2 separate regions of the Homo sapiens genome follow, and region 2 is linked to region 1. Evidence: fine-mapped expression QTL. A gene starts in region 1. The other region holds a variant in brackets. All regions are shown on one strand. Distances are from middle to middle. Region 1 holds the start of PPP1CA (protein phosphatase 1 catalytic subunit alpha). Region 2 holds the start of LOC124902695 (a long non-coding RNA gene).

Evidence for each region.
Region 2: its variant is fine-mapped to the expression of PPP1CA in whole blood (TOPMed, PIP above 0.99).

The regions. Positions count from the first base shown.
Region 1 is chr11:67,397,783-67,406,298 of GRCh38, reverse strand. PPP1CA (protein phosphatase 1 catalytic subunit alpha) reads left to right here and starts at 4,441. Exons shown (of 7, transcript NM_002708.4): 1 at 4,441-4,571; 2 at 5,100-5,231; 3 at 5,380-5,610; 4 at 6,634-6,738; 5 at 7,136-7,359; 6 at 7,443-7,577; 7 at 7,654-8,116. The coding sequence starts at 4,517. The coding sequence ends at 7,764. It overlaps RAD9A (RAD9 checkpoint clamp component A), which reads right to left. Exons shown (of 11, transcript NM_004584.3): 11 at 7,889-8,516. It overlaps TBC1D10C (TBC1 domain family member 10C), which reads right to left and starts at 2,216. Exons shown (of 9, transcript NM_001369496.1): 1 at 1,945-2,216; 2 at 1,115-1,214; 3 at 793-900; 4 at 598-704; 5 at 282-396. The coding sequence starts at 2,096. RefSeq lists enhancers at 1,069-1,238, 7,630-8,210, 8,211-8,516 and a silencer at 4,180-4,959.
Region 2 is chr11:67,126,957-67,134,956 of GRCh38, reverse strand. All of the region lies in intron 2 of KDM2A (lysine demethylase 2A), which reads right to left. It overlaps LOC124902695 (a long non-coding RNA gene), which reads right to left and starts at 346. Exons shown (of 2, transcript XR_007062740.1): 1 at 310-346. The variant C/T (reference allele first, on the strand shown) is at 3,936.

The sequences.
Region 1 (8,516 bases):
GGTCGCAGTCCCCAAGTTCAGAATCAGGAGTCGTGGGGTCAAGGTGATAACATCCAGATTCCTAGATGACTGGGGTCAAGGCTGGGGTCAAGGGTCCCAGGTTCCTGGAGTCAAGGTCATTAGGCTTGAAGGTCACTGAGGCTGGCAGTCATGAGGACCTGGGTCACTAGGACAGGGTCCAGGAATCAAGGATTGCAGGTTTCTGAGGCCACAGTTCCTGGGGATGGGGTTCCCTGGGCCTAGGTCACTAGGGTTCCCAGAGCAGGGTCAAGGTCACTCACCTCTGGGGGCAGGTGCATGAGCAGCACAGCAGCCACGGGCCCCTGGGCCTGGCAGTAGCCCTGCTCCGGTCGATACAGGGTGTAGGCCTTGAGCACCTGCAGGAGCCCCTGCTGCCTGTGCCGGAAGACCCCATAAGGGGCCAGTCCTGCAGGCACCCCCTTCTCCACCCTCTGGGGGCCTCTGCCCAGGCCTCAGCCTCCCTGGGCCTTCCTGGGTCCCCTGAGATGCAAGACTGTAGAGCTGGGCTAGGGAAAGTGGGCTGGAGCACCTGGGGCTTGTGGGGCTGGGGGTCCCTGGGCATCACCGGCCTCGTACCCGTGGCCCTGAGGCGACACAAACATCTCGTGCAGAGGGAATTGACGGTGCAGGTCCCTGCCAATGGTCTCCATCCACTGTGGGTCTCCAGGGGCCTCTGCCAGCTCCTGTGGGTAGCCAGGAAGGTGGGTGTGAGGGTTCAGTGTGGTGAGGGGCTCTGGGTAGGGGAATTGGGGCCCCTGCCCACTCCCTCACCTGATAGGTGCCAGGGCTGTTCTTCTGGCACACATGGGCCCCACACAACAGGGGCCAGCATCGGGCGCGCAGGGCAGACGGGATGCCTTTCCGGCACTGCATCTTTACCTGTGGGTGAGGCCAAGGGCTCCACTAGGCAGCCTCCATAGCTCCTGCTGGCAGGCCCCAGGCACAGCTCATCAGCAGGCAGGGGCCCACTTTGGGTGGCAGGGAGCAAAGGCCGGAGGTGCTGGGACACAGGGTGGGTACATTTTGCCAAGATGTGGGCTGAGGCAGAGAGGAATGAGCCATGGAAGCCAAGTGGGGCCCCTGCCCCCCTCACCTTCTTGTACCGCCGGGACATGGTTTTCTCCCAGTGCGAGGTCATCTCCACCCACTTCATCTCCCGTTGGCGGATGAGGTCTGCAGGTGGGTGGCCCGGCCTGGGGGTGCATGGCACAGGTATCCAGACGCTGGGCAGCTGTTACCCAAGGCCCACACTGCCACCCTCCAGGCTACCCAGGTGAACCCAGCTCCTGGCCCTAGGGATCTCTGGGAGCCCTGTGGGGTGACCTGTGACCCAGGAGCTGCCAATGCTTGTCACGGGGACAGGAAAGGATGTGGCTCCGACGTGGGCAGAAGCAGGAGACTGAAGGGGTGAGTGGGTGTGTATTGGGGGAGGGACTGGTTGGCTGTCACCCAGGACAGGGACACAGACAATTCATAGGGGAAGCTGGCTGGAGAGAGCCCTGGACTGGAAGCCCAGAGTCCTGAGTTTGAGTCTGGGTCTGTGTCTGATCTGTGTGACCTGGGGCAAGTTTCTGTCTATATCTGGACTTGTGTTTCTGTCTGTAGCTTGGGGAAAGGGGGAAGGAGGAGGTATGGGTTCTGTGATTTGGATCTGGGATTCCTGAGCCAGAGGTTCAAAGGGGAAGGATGTTCTGCCCCAGTAGTGGGTGCAAACCCTCGGAGGCTGGGGGTAAGAGACGTACAGAGGCCTCCCCGGACCCTTCCCACCTTAGGGTTCCACCTGGCACCTGCAGAGGGGTGCTACTGGCTGAGTCCCCCTCCCAATCCCTACCACCAGACCCTCCCGGCCTCCCTCCAGAATTCAGCCCTCAGCCCCCTGTCCTCTGTCCCAGCATTCCGCCAGCCCTCACCCTGCCCCCTTACCCTGGCTCTGCTGAGCTGCCCCCAATGAATCCATAGCGGTCGGCCTGGCGATATGGGCCAGGCCCGCTGAGCTCTGAGTCGGACCCCAAGGAGCTGGAGTCATCCTGCAGCTCGGGAGGCTGCACCAGGTCCTCCCCCAGGGCCTGGGCCATGGTGCCCGGGGCCTTCGATGCCACAGGCAGAGAAAGTGGGGAGAACCAGTGTGAGGGGCCACTCCCGGCCAGCCTGGGGCCTGGCTGCGGGGTCAGAGGGGGGAGGTTTCAGGGTATCTCACCAAGCCCCCTATGTCTCCTCTTTTATGGGGGCAGGGGCTAGGCCCTGCCCTGACAGAAAAGCCAGGCCTCTGTCCGGAGACCCAGCCCCAAGCCCTGCCCCTGTCCCCACCAGCCCAGCTCACCTCCCGCAGCACCTCACCTCCTCCTCTCACTTCCTCCTCCTCCTCACACAGCTTTGGCAACCGCTGGGGGCCCCTCCCAAGGGTGGGGGGTGTCACCCCTTCCTCTCTGAGGCTCTTCCTGCCTGCCCCAGTGCCCCTGAGCTGTGGGCTCCTCCCACCTTCCCCATGGCCCCAGTGACTGCAGGCTTGAGTTCCTGTGCTGGTGTGGAGGGCCCAGGACTGTTAGACGCAGGGGCCGGGCCACCTCCAGTTCTTTTGTTTGTTTCTTTTGAGACAGAGTCTCGCTCTGTTGCCCAGGCTGGAGTGCAGTGGCGCGGTCTCAGCTCACTGCAACCTCCACCTCCCGGATTCAAGTGATTCTCCTGCCTCAGCCCCCCAAGTAGCAGGGACTACAGACAAGCACCACCATGCCCGGCTAATTTTTGTATTTTTAGTAGAGACAGGGTTTTTGCCACATTGGTCAAACTCTTGACCTCAGGTGATCCATCCACCTCAGCCTCCCAAAGTGCTGGGATTGCAGGCATGAGCCACTGCGCCTGGACTTCATGTTTGTTTCTTGAGACAGGGTCTTGCTCTGTCACCCAGGCTGGAGTGTAATGGCACGATCTGGGCTCACTGCAACCTCCACCTCCTGGTCTCAAGAGATCCTCCTGCGTCAGCCTCCACAGTAGCTGGGACTGCAGGCGCGCACCACCATGCCCAGCTAATTTTTGTATTTTTTGTTGAGACAGGGTTTCGCTGTGTTGCCCAGGCTGGACGCAAGAGACCATCCCGCCTTAGCCTCCCAAAGTGCTGGAATTACAGGCCTGAGCCACCACGGCAGGCCCACTTCCAGTTCTGAGGTTACTGGCATGTAAAGCACCAACTCAGGGTTCCAACAAGAATTAAGGTTCATTTATCGTCTGCTCTTCTTTTTTTTTTTTTTTTTTTTGAGACAGTCTCGCACTGTCGCCTGGGCTCCACTTCCCAGGTTCAAGCGATTCTCCTGCCTCAGCCTCCCAAGTAGCTGGGATTACAGGAGGCTCCCATCATGCCCAGCTAACTTTTTGTATTTTTAGAGAGATGGGGTTTCACCATGTTGGCCAGGCTGGTCTCGAACTCCTGACCTCAAATGATCCGCCCGCCTAGGCCTCCCAAAGTCCTGGGATTACAGGCGTGAGCCACTGTGCCCAGCCACGTCTGCTCATAAAGTAATTATTTTTATGTGCACACCCTGCAATATTACTGTGCTACTCAAAAGCTAATTATGGGGCCAGGCTTGTTGGCTCACGCCTGTAATCCTAGCACTTTGGGAGGTCAAGGGGGGTGGATCACTTGAGGTTAGGAGTTCAAGGCCACCTGGCCAACATGGCGAAACCCCACCTCTGCTAAAAATACAAAAATTAGCTGGGCACAGTGGCGCACGCCTGTAATCCCAGCTACTCCAGAGGCTGAGGCAGGAGAATCGCTTGAACCCGGGAAGTGAATGTTGCAGTGAGCCAAAGTCGCGCCACTGCACTCCAGCCTGGGGGACAGAGCAAAACTCTGTCTCAAAAAAAAAAAGCGAATTATGGGACTTATAAGAAAATATTAATTTAGCATGCCCCAAGGACCAAAGTGCGCTGGGAATTCAGCCGTAGCTGTCTTTGAGTGTGGTCAGCCGCCTGGGCGCCACAGAGACCCACGAAGAAGTGGGGGGTCCTCCGTGAATGCGAGGTCCAGGCTGTTTTTATCTCTTGAGCCTCAGTTTCCTTTCCTGCACTTGGAGCAGTTAACCCTCAGTGCCTAGCAGCCGGTTATTAACATGTTCACAACACCTTCCACCCAGGGAAGGGGTGGGAAAGTCTGTTGGGCTTTTGAAAGAGAAAAACAACTTCCACAGTCCTTCCGGCCCCACATCCTCTGAACAGGGCTGGGCGCCTCCTCTGGGGCGTAACCAGCTTGGTCACGCCCCCGACAGACCCCGCCCCCAGCCCGCCGCCGAGGCCCCGCCCCCCGGGCCGCCGCGCCTCACGTCCAGCGGGGGCGCTAGAGGGCGGGGGACTGGGCGGGGCGGGCCCGGGAGGCCTGGAGGCGGGGCCGCGGGCCGGGGGCGGACTGGGGCGGGCGGAAGGAGAGCCAGGCCGGAAGGAGGCTGCCGGAGGGCGGGAGGCAGGAGCGGGCCAGGAGCTGCTGGGCTGGAGCGGCGGCGCCGCCATGTCCGACAGCGAGAAGCTCAACCTGGACTCGATCATCGGGCGCCTGCTGGAAGGTTGGTCGGGGCGGGGGAGGCCCGCGTCCGCCGCGCCCTGGCCCCCTGCCCGGCCCGGAAGTGGCGCGCGGGCGGGCCCCCGGGGCCAGCTTAGACTGGGCGGGGACGGGCAGCGAGGTTCCGTGGCCGCAGCTGCCCCCCCGCGGACGCGCCTGAGAGGTCCGGGGCCAGCTCCGACGCGCGGAGCAGCTCCCCCCCTCTCCCGGGCTGGGGGCGCACGGGTTGCCTGGGCTCTTGGGGCGAGGGAGAAACCCGGGAAGCCCGGTCCAGGAAGGGGTCCTGCGCTGTGAGGTTTTTGGTGGCAGCCCCCTGCGCACGACAGTCGCCTCCCGAGGCGCTGAGGGTAGCTGGGGGCTTCCCCTGGGAGGCTTGAGGCCGCGGTCCCGGGAGGCTCAGCAGCAACAGCTGCCTGTGGGCAAGGAGGGGCCGAGGAGGCCTAGGCGCCCCCGGAGGTATCCATGGGGCCACCCGTGTCGCCCACCCTCCTCCTGTCAGGGTCCAGGGTCCTGACACCCCATTGCGCCCCAGTGCAGGGCTCGCGGCCTGGCAAGAATGTACAGCTGACAGAGAACGAGATCCGCGGTCTGTGCCTGAAATCCCGGGAGATTTTTCTGAGCCAGCCCATTCTTCTGGAGCTGGAGGCACCCCTCAAGATCTGCGGTGAGCCCCCGGCCCAGGTCCCCTTGCCTTCCTAAAAGTGGCACTGGACCCCACAGAGTTCCTGGAGCCCTCCTCCCTTGAGCGCAGTCCTGGCCCTGGGTTCAGGTCTAGACCTTGCATCTAGCTTACCCGGTTCCCTGGGTCACAGGTGACATACACGGCCAGTACTACGACCTTCTGCGACTATTTGAGTATGGCGGTTTCCCTCCCGAGAGCAACTACCTCTTTCTGGGGGACTATGTGGACAGGGGCAAGCAGTCCTTGGAGACCATCTGCCTGCTGCTGGCCTATAAGATCAAGTACCCCGAGAACTTCTTCCTGCTCCGTGGGAACCACGAGTGTGCCAGCATCAACCGCATCTATGGTTTCTACGATGAGTGTGAGTGGTCTGAGCGTCTGGGGCTGCCCGGGTCCTGAACCGCACTCTTTGCCATTCAGTGGGACCTTCACATTGGCCTGATATCTGACAGACACTTGATAGACTGTGCGCTCCACGAAGGCGGGGCCCAGGTCCGTTCTCGTGCCTGCCCTGCCCCTCCTGGCATGGGGTCTGGGGAATGGTTGCTGACTGAAGGGCTGCCCGGATTCTAGTGCTTTCCCCCAGGGCCCTGCCTGGTGACACTCCCCCTACATTTGCTACTAAGCACTTAGGATGTTTGCAGATGGGCTCTGCTGTCCAGAAGCTGAGATAAACCAGACCTGGACTTGGCCCGGCTCATGGGTGGGGGCATGCGAGGAGTGCCAACCCTGAGGCTGGTCCAGATTGGAACTTAGTTTCCAGTGGACTCGGGTGCTTTAGAATTACTTCTGGCAGGAGGCCGAGGCGGGAAGATCCCTTGGACCCAGAAGCTCCAAGTTACAGTGAGCTATGATCTTGCCACTGCACTCCAGCCTGGGTGACAGAGCAAGACCCTGTTTCTTTACTTTTTTGAGACGGAGTTTCACTCTTGTTGCCCAGGCTAGAGTGCAATGGTGTGATCTCGGCTCACCACAACCTCCGTCTCCTGGGTTCAAGCGATTCTCCTGCCTCAGCCTCCCAAGTAGCTGGGATTACAGGCATGCGCCACCACGCCTGGCTGATTTTTTTGTATTTTAGTAGAGACGAGGTTTCTCCATGTTGGTCAGGCTGGTCTCGAACTTCTGACCTCAGGTGATCCGCCCGCCTCGGCCTCCCAAAGTGCTGGGATTACAGGTCTTAGCCACTGCGCCTGGCCAGATCCTGTCTTCTTTAATTAAAATAAAAAGTAACTAGAATTGCTCCTGGAAGGCTGACAGGTGGCAGGGGTGGGGGGTGGTTTGCATCGGTGCCTGACTCTCTCCTCCCAGCCACGGCTGAATAGCCCAGGGACCCTGGCTGAGGGTGGGGTAGGCAGGCACCTCACAGCCACCTCCCCCTGGGCAGGCAAGAGACGCTACAACATCAAACTGTGGAAAACCTTCACTGACTGCTTCAACTGCCTGCCCATCGCGGCCATAGTGGACGAAAAGATCTTCTGCTGCCACGGAGGTGAGGGAGGGGATGGCTGGGGAGGAGGAGCACTGGCCGCATCCCTCAGCACCCGGCAGCTCTCCTTAGGTCTCATCTGGGAAGTCACTCCTTCCAGGAAGTGTCCCCCATACCCCACTGTGCTGGGCTGCACTCACTTCCTTGATGTGTGTCCTACATGGAGTGGGCTTGTCTCCTTTCTCCCGGGAGCTCTGTGCTCCTGAGGGCAGGGATGCCTTTGTGCCTGTTTGGGAACTTGAAAAAGCTGAGGGGAAGGGGATGACTTCTGCCTGTCTAGGCGCCCAGGAGACCAGTGGCGGGACCAGGAGGGTGGTGGGAAAGGTGGGGTTCATTGGCCAAGGCTTCCTGGAGGGAGGATGTCCTTGTTTGAGGAAGTGACCTTCCCCCGGCCCCCCAGGCCTGTCCCCGGACCTGCAGTCTATGGAGCAGATTCGGCGGATCATGCGGCCCACAGATGTGCCTGACCAGGGCCTGCTGTGTGACCTGCTGTGGTCTGACCCTGACAAGGACGTGCAGGGCTGGGGCGAGAACGACCGTGGCGTCTCTTTTACCTTTGGAGCCGAGGTGGTGGCCAAGTTCCTCCACAAGCACGACTTGGACCTCATCTGCCGAGCACACCAGGTGGGCTGGTGGCTCCGGCCTGCGGCAGGGGAAGGGGAGGGCCGTGCCTGCGCTCGGGACTGACTGCTCCCATCCTCGCCCAGGTGGTAGAAGACGGCTACGAGTTCTTTGCCAAGCGGCAGCTGGTGACACTTTTCTCAGCTCCCAACTACTGTGGCGAGTTTGACAATGCTGGCGCCATGATGAGTGTGGACGAGACCCTCATGTGCTCTTTCCAGGTGAGTGTGGGGAAGAAAGGAGCCGCTAGGCCCTGTGGCTCAGCCCCATGAGCCTGACCAACACTGTCTCTTTTAGATCCTCAAGCCCGCCGACAAGAACAAGGGGAAGTACGGGCAGTTCAGTGGCCTGAACCCTGGAGGCCGACCCATCACCCCACCCCGCAATTCCGCCAAAGCCAAGAAATAGCCCCCGCACACCACCCTGTGCCCCAGATGATGGATTGATTGTACAGAAATCATGCTGCCATGCTGGGGGGGGGTCACCCCGACCCCTCAGGCCCACCTGTCACGGGGAACATGGAGCCTTGGTGTATTTTTCTTTTCTTTTTTTAATGAATCAATAGCAGCGTCCAGTCCCCCAGGGCTGCTTCCTGCCTGCACCTGCGGTGACTGTGAGCAGGATCCTGGGGCCGAGGCTGCAGCTCAGGGCAACGGCAGGCCAGGTCGTGGGTCTCCAGCCGTGCTTGGCCTCAGGGCTGGCAGCCGGATCCTGGGGCAACCCATCTGGTCTCTTGAATAAAGGTCAAAGCTGGATTCTCGCCATGGCCTCCGTCTCACATCTAAGACACTGCCTGGCAGCTCTTCTGCACAGAGCCGCTTGGGAGTCTCGGCACCGGGCCCCAGCCAGGGCAACCCTAGCCACACACTCGGGTCCAAGGCTCTTAGAATTCCAAGTCAGCGCCAAAGAGTATCAGGAAAGCAAGGAAAACTTGTCAGCTCCACGGGGGTCCCAGATGCATGCCCAGGACTTCAGGAAGGAACAGGTCATGATTGGCAGAGAAGCTGGATCACCAGGGGCCAGCAGCACCTACTATGACATTTTCCTTAGGAAGGTGAGCCTGAGGGAGACAGGTTTCCAGCCTTGGCCAGCTGGAGTATAGCCTGAGGCTCAATGAGAAATAAGAGGTAGGAACGTCAGTAGTTCAGGGCCAAGTCTGG
Region 2 (8,000 bases), 270 kb after region 1:
TGGGTTGAGGATTGTCATGACCATGAAGTTAGTTTTGTGAAAATTCAACAACAGAAAAAGGGCTTCATGCTTACTTTTGCAAAGCATGATGTGGGAAACACAATGTGAGACTGCTTTTGAGATGTTTTGTGTTAGATTTATCTAAAATTCAAGGCCAGGTGAGGTGGCTCACACTTGTAATCCCAGCACTTTGAGAGGCTGAAGCAGGTGGATCACCTGAGGTCAGAAGTTCGAGACCAGCCTAGTCAACGTGGCGAAATCCTGTCTCCACTAAAAATATAAAAATTAGCTGGGCGTGGCGACGCATACCTGTAATCCCAGCTACTCAGGAGGCTGAGGCAGGAGAATCACTTGAACCCAAGAGGCAGAGGTTTAAGTGAGCCGAGATCGCACCACTACATTCCAGCCTCGGCAACAGATTGACTGTCTCAAAAAAAAAGTAAATAAATAAATAAAACTTTAAAAAATAAAATTATAAAATGAATAGCAGATAATCAGGACGGAAACATGCAACCTATCTACTGGGTATTTCCCTTTACATCAGGGTTTGTCAACCTTGTACTACTGACATTCTGGACCTGTTCATTCATCGTAGTTAGGGCTGTCCTGTGCACTGCAGAATGCTTTAGCAGCATCCCTAGCCTCTACTCATTAAATACCAGTAGCACTACCCCAGTCTGACCATCAGAAATGTCCACTGCTAAATGTTTCCTTGGGGGCAAAATCATCCCCAGTTGAGAATCTGCTTTAAATCTTCTAGTATCTCCAACTGTCTAAAGCCTCATCCACTCATATTCTCTCCTCAAAGTTTCAAAAAATCTTTCCCCCAGTCTTCCTGGTAATCCAAGCTAAATCCCAAAGTCTACCTTAGTATTTCATTTGTCTTTGCCTTCAAAATCCTCAGAAAGCACACTGTACAACTTCAACAAGGACAGGTCAGTTTTCTTGTTTAAAACCACAGTTGGTGCCGGGCATGGTGGCTCACGCCTCTAATCCTAGCACTTTGGGAGGCCGAGGTGGGAGGATCACGAGGTCAGGAGTTTGAGACCACTCTGACCAACATGGTGAAACCCTGTCTCTACTAAAAATACAAAAATTACCTGGGTGTGGTGGCGCAGGGCTGTAAACCCAGCTGGCTGAGGCAGGAGAATCGCTTGAACCTGGGAGGCGGAAGTTATAGTAAGCCGAGATGGCGCCACTGCACGTCAGCCTAGGAGCCAGAGACTCTGTCTCAAAAAAAAAACCACAGTTGGAAGCCGGGTGCGGTGGCTCACGCCTGTAATCCCAGCACTTTGGGAGGCCGAGGTGGGCAGATCACCTGAGGTCAGGAGTTCAAGACCAGACTGGCCAACATGGCAAAACCCCGTCTCTACTAAAAATATAAAAATTGGCCGGGCGTGGTGGTGGGAGCCTGTAATCCAAGCTACTGGAGAGGCTGAGACAGAAGAATCACCTGAACCCAGGAGGCAGAGGTTACAGTGAGCAGAGATTAGGCCACTGCACTCCAGCCTGGGCAACAGAGTGAGATTCTGTCTCAAAACAAAAAATAAAAATAGGCCAGGCACGGTGGCTCACACCTATAATCCCAGCCCTTTGGGAGGCCAAGGCGGGTGGATCACTTGAGGTCAGGAGTTTGAGACCAGCCTGACCAACATGGTAAAACACCATCTCTACAAAAAAAAACACAAAATTAGCGCAGTGTGGTGGCGCACGCCTGTAATCCCAGCTACCTGGGAGGCTGAGGCAGGAGAAGTGCTTGAACCCTGAAGGCGGAGATTGCACTGAGCCAAGATAGCACCATTACACTCCAGCCTGGCCAACAAGAGTGAAACTCCCTCTCAAAAAATAAATAAATAAATACGAATAAAAGCACAATTGGTAAGAGACTTGATACTAAAACTCAAGGCTCAACATCCCCAATTAAGTACTCTTCTCTATCATAACATGCTGCTATCCATCAGTTACAAAGTTTAGTCAGTCCTTCACTGCCAATGTGTCTTGCTTCTATCTCTTCCTTTCCATTTCTACCTATAACCCACAGCAATGGTTCTCAAACTTTTGCGTGGATCAAAATCACCTGTCTTGTTAAAACACAGATTGCTAGGCCCCAACTCCAGAGTTTCTGGTTCAGTAAGTTTGGGGTGGGGCCCAAGAATTTGCATTCTAATATGTTCCCAGACACTCAGTTAATGCTCATGCTGCTAATGAGAGACCTACACTTTGAAAACCACTGCCTTAAGAGTTCAGGGTTCCTGTCACCTCAAAAGGCAAGCTATTTGAATTTCTTTCTAGACCACCCCGACCTGAAACTGGAGACATTACTCCCAAAATGCCACTTTGGCCAAATCACTGTTATATTAAAAACAAACTGGCTGGACGCAGCGGCTCATGCCTATAATCCCAGTACTTTGGGAGGCCGAGGCAGGCGGATCATTTGAGGTCAGGAGTTCCAGACCAGCCTGGCCAATAATAGTTGAGACCCCGTCTCTACTAAAAATACAAAAAATTAGCCGGGCGTGGTGGCACGTGCCTGTAATCCCAGCTACTTGGGAGGCTGAGGCAGGAGAATCGCTTGAACCCAGGAAGCGTAGGTTACAGTGAGCCGAGATCGTGCCATTGCACTCTAGCCTGGACATCGCAGTGAGACTCCATATCCAAAAAACAAAAAAAACAAAACTTCTAATGGCTATGTCCATACTTGGCTTTCAAAGTTGTTTAAAATTTCTACCCAACGTTATCAGCAGTGCCCCTCAAAAGACACCACCTACTTCAGTCTGCTCATCTATCAGAGATCCACAGAATAGGCCTTATAGTAGTAGTATAAAGCTTATGCTGTCTTTACCACCTGAAAGGCCACCCTCTTCCCTCCTCCTCTCTACCTACCTGAAGGAGGCCTTCACCAATGTATTTGCCAAAAACATTCGTTTGGTCACTATTTGCTGCCTTTTATCTTTAGGGTTTAACTTTTTACCAAGTACTCACAGACAGAGAAAAACCCCAAGAACCTAAAATTTAAAACAGAAAACAAGGATATGAGTGACATACATAAATAAAAGCCTTGACATACACACAAACTGCACAATACTGCCGTTTTAACAGATCAAGTGCAATAAGTTCAAAGTTCATGAAAAGAAAGAATGTGCCATCTTTGTTTGAAACATAATCAAACACTGGCTATCAAATATTTATAGCTATCTAATTCAGGATGTTAAGCAGACAGACGTTAGCAAGAAAATGTTAAAGTAGGCGGAAAGTCGTGGCTCATGCCTGTAATCTCAGCATTCTGGGAGGCCAAGGCAAGTGGATCACCCGAGGTCAGGAGTTCCAGACCAGCCTGGCCAATATGGTAAAACCCCATCTCTACTAAAAATACAAAAATTAGCCAGGCGTGGTGGCACACGCCTGTAATCCCAGCTACTAAGGAGGCTGAGGCAGGAGAATTGCCTGAACCTGGGAGGCAGAGGTTTCAGTGAGCCAATATCGCACCACTACACTCCAACCTGGGCGACAAGAGCGAAATTCCATCTCAAAAAAAAAAAAAAAAGAAAAGAAAACACTAAAGTAGCCTCAAAAGAGAGAAAGTACTCAGCCTACACACCGTGGAGTAAGAGTGTTATTATTATTATTTTTTTGAGACGGAGTTTCGCTCTTGTCACCCAGGCTGGAGTGCGACGGTGAGATCTCAGCTCACAGCAACCTCCACCTCCCAGGTTCAGGCGATTCTCCCACCTCAGCCTCCCGAGTAGCTGGGACTACAGGCGTGCACCACCATGCCCAGCTAATTTTGTATTTTTAGTAGAGATGGGGTTTCGTCATGTTGGCCAGGCTGGTCTTGAACTCCTGACCTCAGGCAATCTGCCCGCCTCGGCCTTGCAAAGTAGTTGGGATTACAGGCGTGAGCCACTGCACCCGGCCTGTTTTCTGTATAAAGTACA[C/T]AAGAGACGTTGGATGGTATGAGAGAAGAAACCTGGGAGTTTGGAGTCAGGGTACCTGAGTTCAAGGTCTGGTTTCACCTCTTACCGACTCTGTGATCTTGGGCAAGTCATGGCCCCTCCCTGGGCCTCTCTCTCCATAATTAAAAAAAAAAAAAAAATCAAGGTTTAAAACGATACCATCTACCTTCCAGGGTTGTTTTGAGAATTAAATAAGGTAATATATATGAAAGAACCTAGCCTACTATCTGGCATATAATAAATGTTTACTGAATTTTAACCCTTTTTGATGTGAAAGTGCAATGCAAAAATAAAGTATTATTCCAAAAGTGAGATAAACAGAGAAAATTAATGAAACCTAATTAAGAGTGTCCGTTACCCCCCCAAAATAGAAAGATACAAAGAATGTATGTCTATCTACATGATATACATAATGTATCAATTCCTTGACTTAATAACCAAAACCAAGACCCGAGAATAACACAAACATCATCACTTGCAACTTCACAGCTTTAAGGCTGTCTAAAGGTCAGCAAAACCTAGGCACAGTTTAGGACAGGATTAGAACAGGAGAGCTTAAGGCCGGGCATGGTGGCTCACGCCTGTAATCCCAACACTTTGGGAGGCCGAAGTGGGCGGATCACTGGAGGTGAGGAGTTTGAGACCAGCCTGACCAACATGGTGAAACCCTGTCTCTACTAAAACAATATAAAAATTAGCCAGGTGGTAAAGAGCAGTCAGGTGCACCTGTGAGGAAGTCAGGTGCCGTGACTCAGACTCGAGTAAACACGAAGTATGAGTTCAACCCAGAAAACTGCTCTCTCTTGGGTTTTGCAAACTTGTCAGAAATAAATCACTAACTTTAGAAAGCTTTGGTGCAAGAAAAAAAAAAAAATTAGCCAGGTGGGGTGGCGGACGCCTGTAATCCCAGCTACTAGGGAGGCTGAGGCTGAAGAATCACTTGAACCCGGGAGGCGGAGGTTGCAGTGAGCAGAGATCGCACCATTGCACTCCAGCCTGAGTGACCACAGTGAAACTGTCTCACAAAAGAAAAAAAAAAAAAGAATAGGAGAGCTTAAAATTCAGACTAAACTTTAATTTTTTTAATTTTTTTTTTTGAGACAGAGTCTCTGTCGCCCAGGCTGGAGTGCAGTGGCACGATCTCGGCGTACAGCAACCTCTGCCTCCCGAGTTGAAGCGATTCTCCTGTCTCAGCCTCCTGGGTAGCTGGGATTACAGGCATGTGCCACTATGCCCGGCTATTTTTCTTTTTCTTTTTTTTTTTTTTTTTGAGATGGAGTCTCGCTCTGTCACCCAGACTGGAGTGCAGTGGCGTGATCTGGGCTCACTGCAAGCTCCGCCTCCCGGGTTCACACCATTCTCCTGCCTCAGCCTCCTAAGTAGCTGGGACTACAGGCGCCCACCATCACGCCCGGCTAATTTTTTGTATTTTTAGTAGAGACGGGGTTTCACCGTGTTAGCCAGGATGGTCTCGATCTCCTGACCTTGTGATCCGCCCGCCTCGGCCTTCCAAAGTGCTGGGATTACAGGTGTGAGCCACCGCGCCCGGCCTATGCCCGGCTAATTTTTGTATTTTTAGTAGAGACGGGGTTTCACCATGTTGGTCAGGCTGGTCTTCAACTCCTGACGTCAAGCATTCCACTGGCCTTGGTCTCCCAAAGTGCTGGGATTACAGGCCTAAGTCACTGTACCTAGACAGACTAAACTTTTAAAATCAACTAGACACTTTATTATTTGTTCTAAATGGTCCAAATACCAAACATCATCAATGTGGTAGTCTGACATGTGTGCTACACATACGTTTTTATTTGTTATAGTTTAGGTCTCTGTTTCTTATCTACACTGCAAGACCCAATATCCAGATATCCTCCTCATCCCTACCTGCCAAAGTGTCCTCCATTCTAATTTATTCATTTTTTTAGAGACAGGGTCTTGCTCTGTAGCCCAAGCTGGAGTGCACTGGCACAGTCATAGCTCATCACAGCCTTAAGCCCCTGGGCTCAAATGATACTTCTGCCTCAACCTCCTGGGTAGCTGGGACCACAGGTGAGAGCCACTGCATCCAGACCCTCCTCCACTCTAGTGGCTTAATCCTAGCATTCAAGAAAATTGGTAGCAAAGAAGAGCATATATCCAGGCTTTCAACAATATCAACAAATACTTATTCAGCACTTGCTATGTGTTAGGCCCTATTTGAAGCATCTAGCACACAGCATAAACAAAAACAAAGCCCCAACTCTCAAGAAGCTTATACTCTAGTGGAAAGCTATACACAAAGTACAGTAGTGATTAATGCTCAGCAAAATAAAACAACAGAAAATAATAGGGCTTAAATTTAATCCTCATTCTAGGGGCCCAAAATATAGCTTACTGTGGAAGACTGATGTATAAGAATAAAAAATTAGTTGTCATTATCTGCATTTTTGAATCACCCAAAAATGGTCAAGTTTTTCCTACATTATTAGGAGGGAGGCCGCAACAATGAGACCAGTGCACTCTCTACCAACACAGACTAAAGACTAAATCTCATAAAATAATTAGAAATAAACTAATTCAACAATGTAGACCACATATAATTTTTTCTAGCTAACATTATACTTTCATACTAGAAAAAAAAAAGGCTTAAAATAAATATTCTATTTTATCTAGTCCATTCTCAGTCAGAAAGACCTCAGAGTGGGAACGGGTCCAGGCGCAGTGGCTCACACTTATAATCCCAGGAGCTGGGGAGGCTGGAGAGGCCTCCAGGCAGGAGAGAGGATCACTTAAGCCCAGGAGTTCGAGACCAGCCTGGACAACACAGTGAAAACCTGTCTCTAGAAAGAATTTAAAAATAAGCCAGGTGTGGTGGCATGTATCTGTGGTACCAGCCACTCAGGAGGCTGAGGTAAGAGGATCACTTGGGGAGGCTGATGCTGCAGTGGTAGTGCCATTGCACTCCGGCCTGGGCAACAGAGCAAGACCCCGCCTAAAAAAAAAAAAAAAAAAAAAAAAGGCCGGGTGTGCTGGCTCACAACTGTAATCCCAGCACTTTGGGAAGCCGAGGCAGGCAGATCGCCTGCCTGAGGTCGGGAGTTTGAAACCAGCCTGGCTAACATGGTGAAACCCCGTCTCTACCAAAAATACAAAATTAGCCGGGCATGGTGGTGCATGCCTGTAATCCCAGCTACTCAGAGGCTGAAGCAGGAGAATCGCTTGAACCCAGGAGAGGGAGGTTGCGGTGAGCCCAGATTGCGTCATAGCACTCCAGCCTCGGCAACAAGAGCAAAACTCCATCTCAAAATAAATAAATAAATAAATTAATTAATTTAAAAAAGATAATCTGGTAATCGCTGCTGAATTTGGGGAGGCACTTTCAAAGGTAAACCAAGGAAAGGTGGGACTATTGCCAGAGTTTCAGTGGCCGCAGTTCCTTGTAACAGATAAATGATTTAGCTATTTCATAATTATATGTAAGACAGGTTAACAGGATTGAACATGCGATAATAACATCTTTTAGAAAAGCTCTCAATTTCTTATTTTTTATTTTTTTTTGCTAGGTGAAAGTGCTAAAAACTCTCAATTTCATCAAGATTGACAAGCACACCAGGCATAGTGGCTCACACCTGTACTCCCAGCACTTTGGGAAGCCAAGGTGGATCGCTTGAGTCTGGGAGTTCAAGACCAGACTGAGCAAAAAAAACCAGACCAGCCTGAGCAGCCCGAACAGGGATAGCCTGCCTTTACAGAAAAAATTAAAAATTAGCCAGGCATGGTGGCACATGCATGCCTGTAGTCCCAGCTACATGCTGAGATGGGAGGACCACTTGAGCCAGGCGGTTGAGGCTACAAAGAGGAATGATCACACCACTGCACTCTAGCCTGGGCAACGGAGTGAGACCCTGTCTCCAAAAAGAAAAAGAAATACAGAAATAAATCATTGTTACCTCAGAACAACCCACCCCAGCATCAAAAGGAAGCTTCTATCCCTCCCACTTGAGTACCTTCTCAGGTATACAAACTTGCATCAGAGTTCTGGCTTTGTTCTGGCAATCAATATACAAAAGT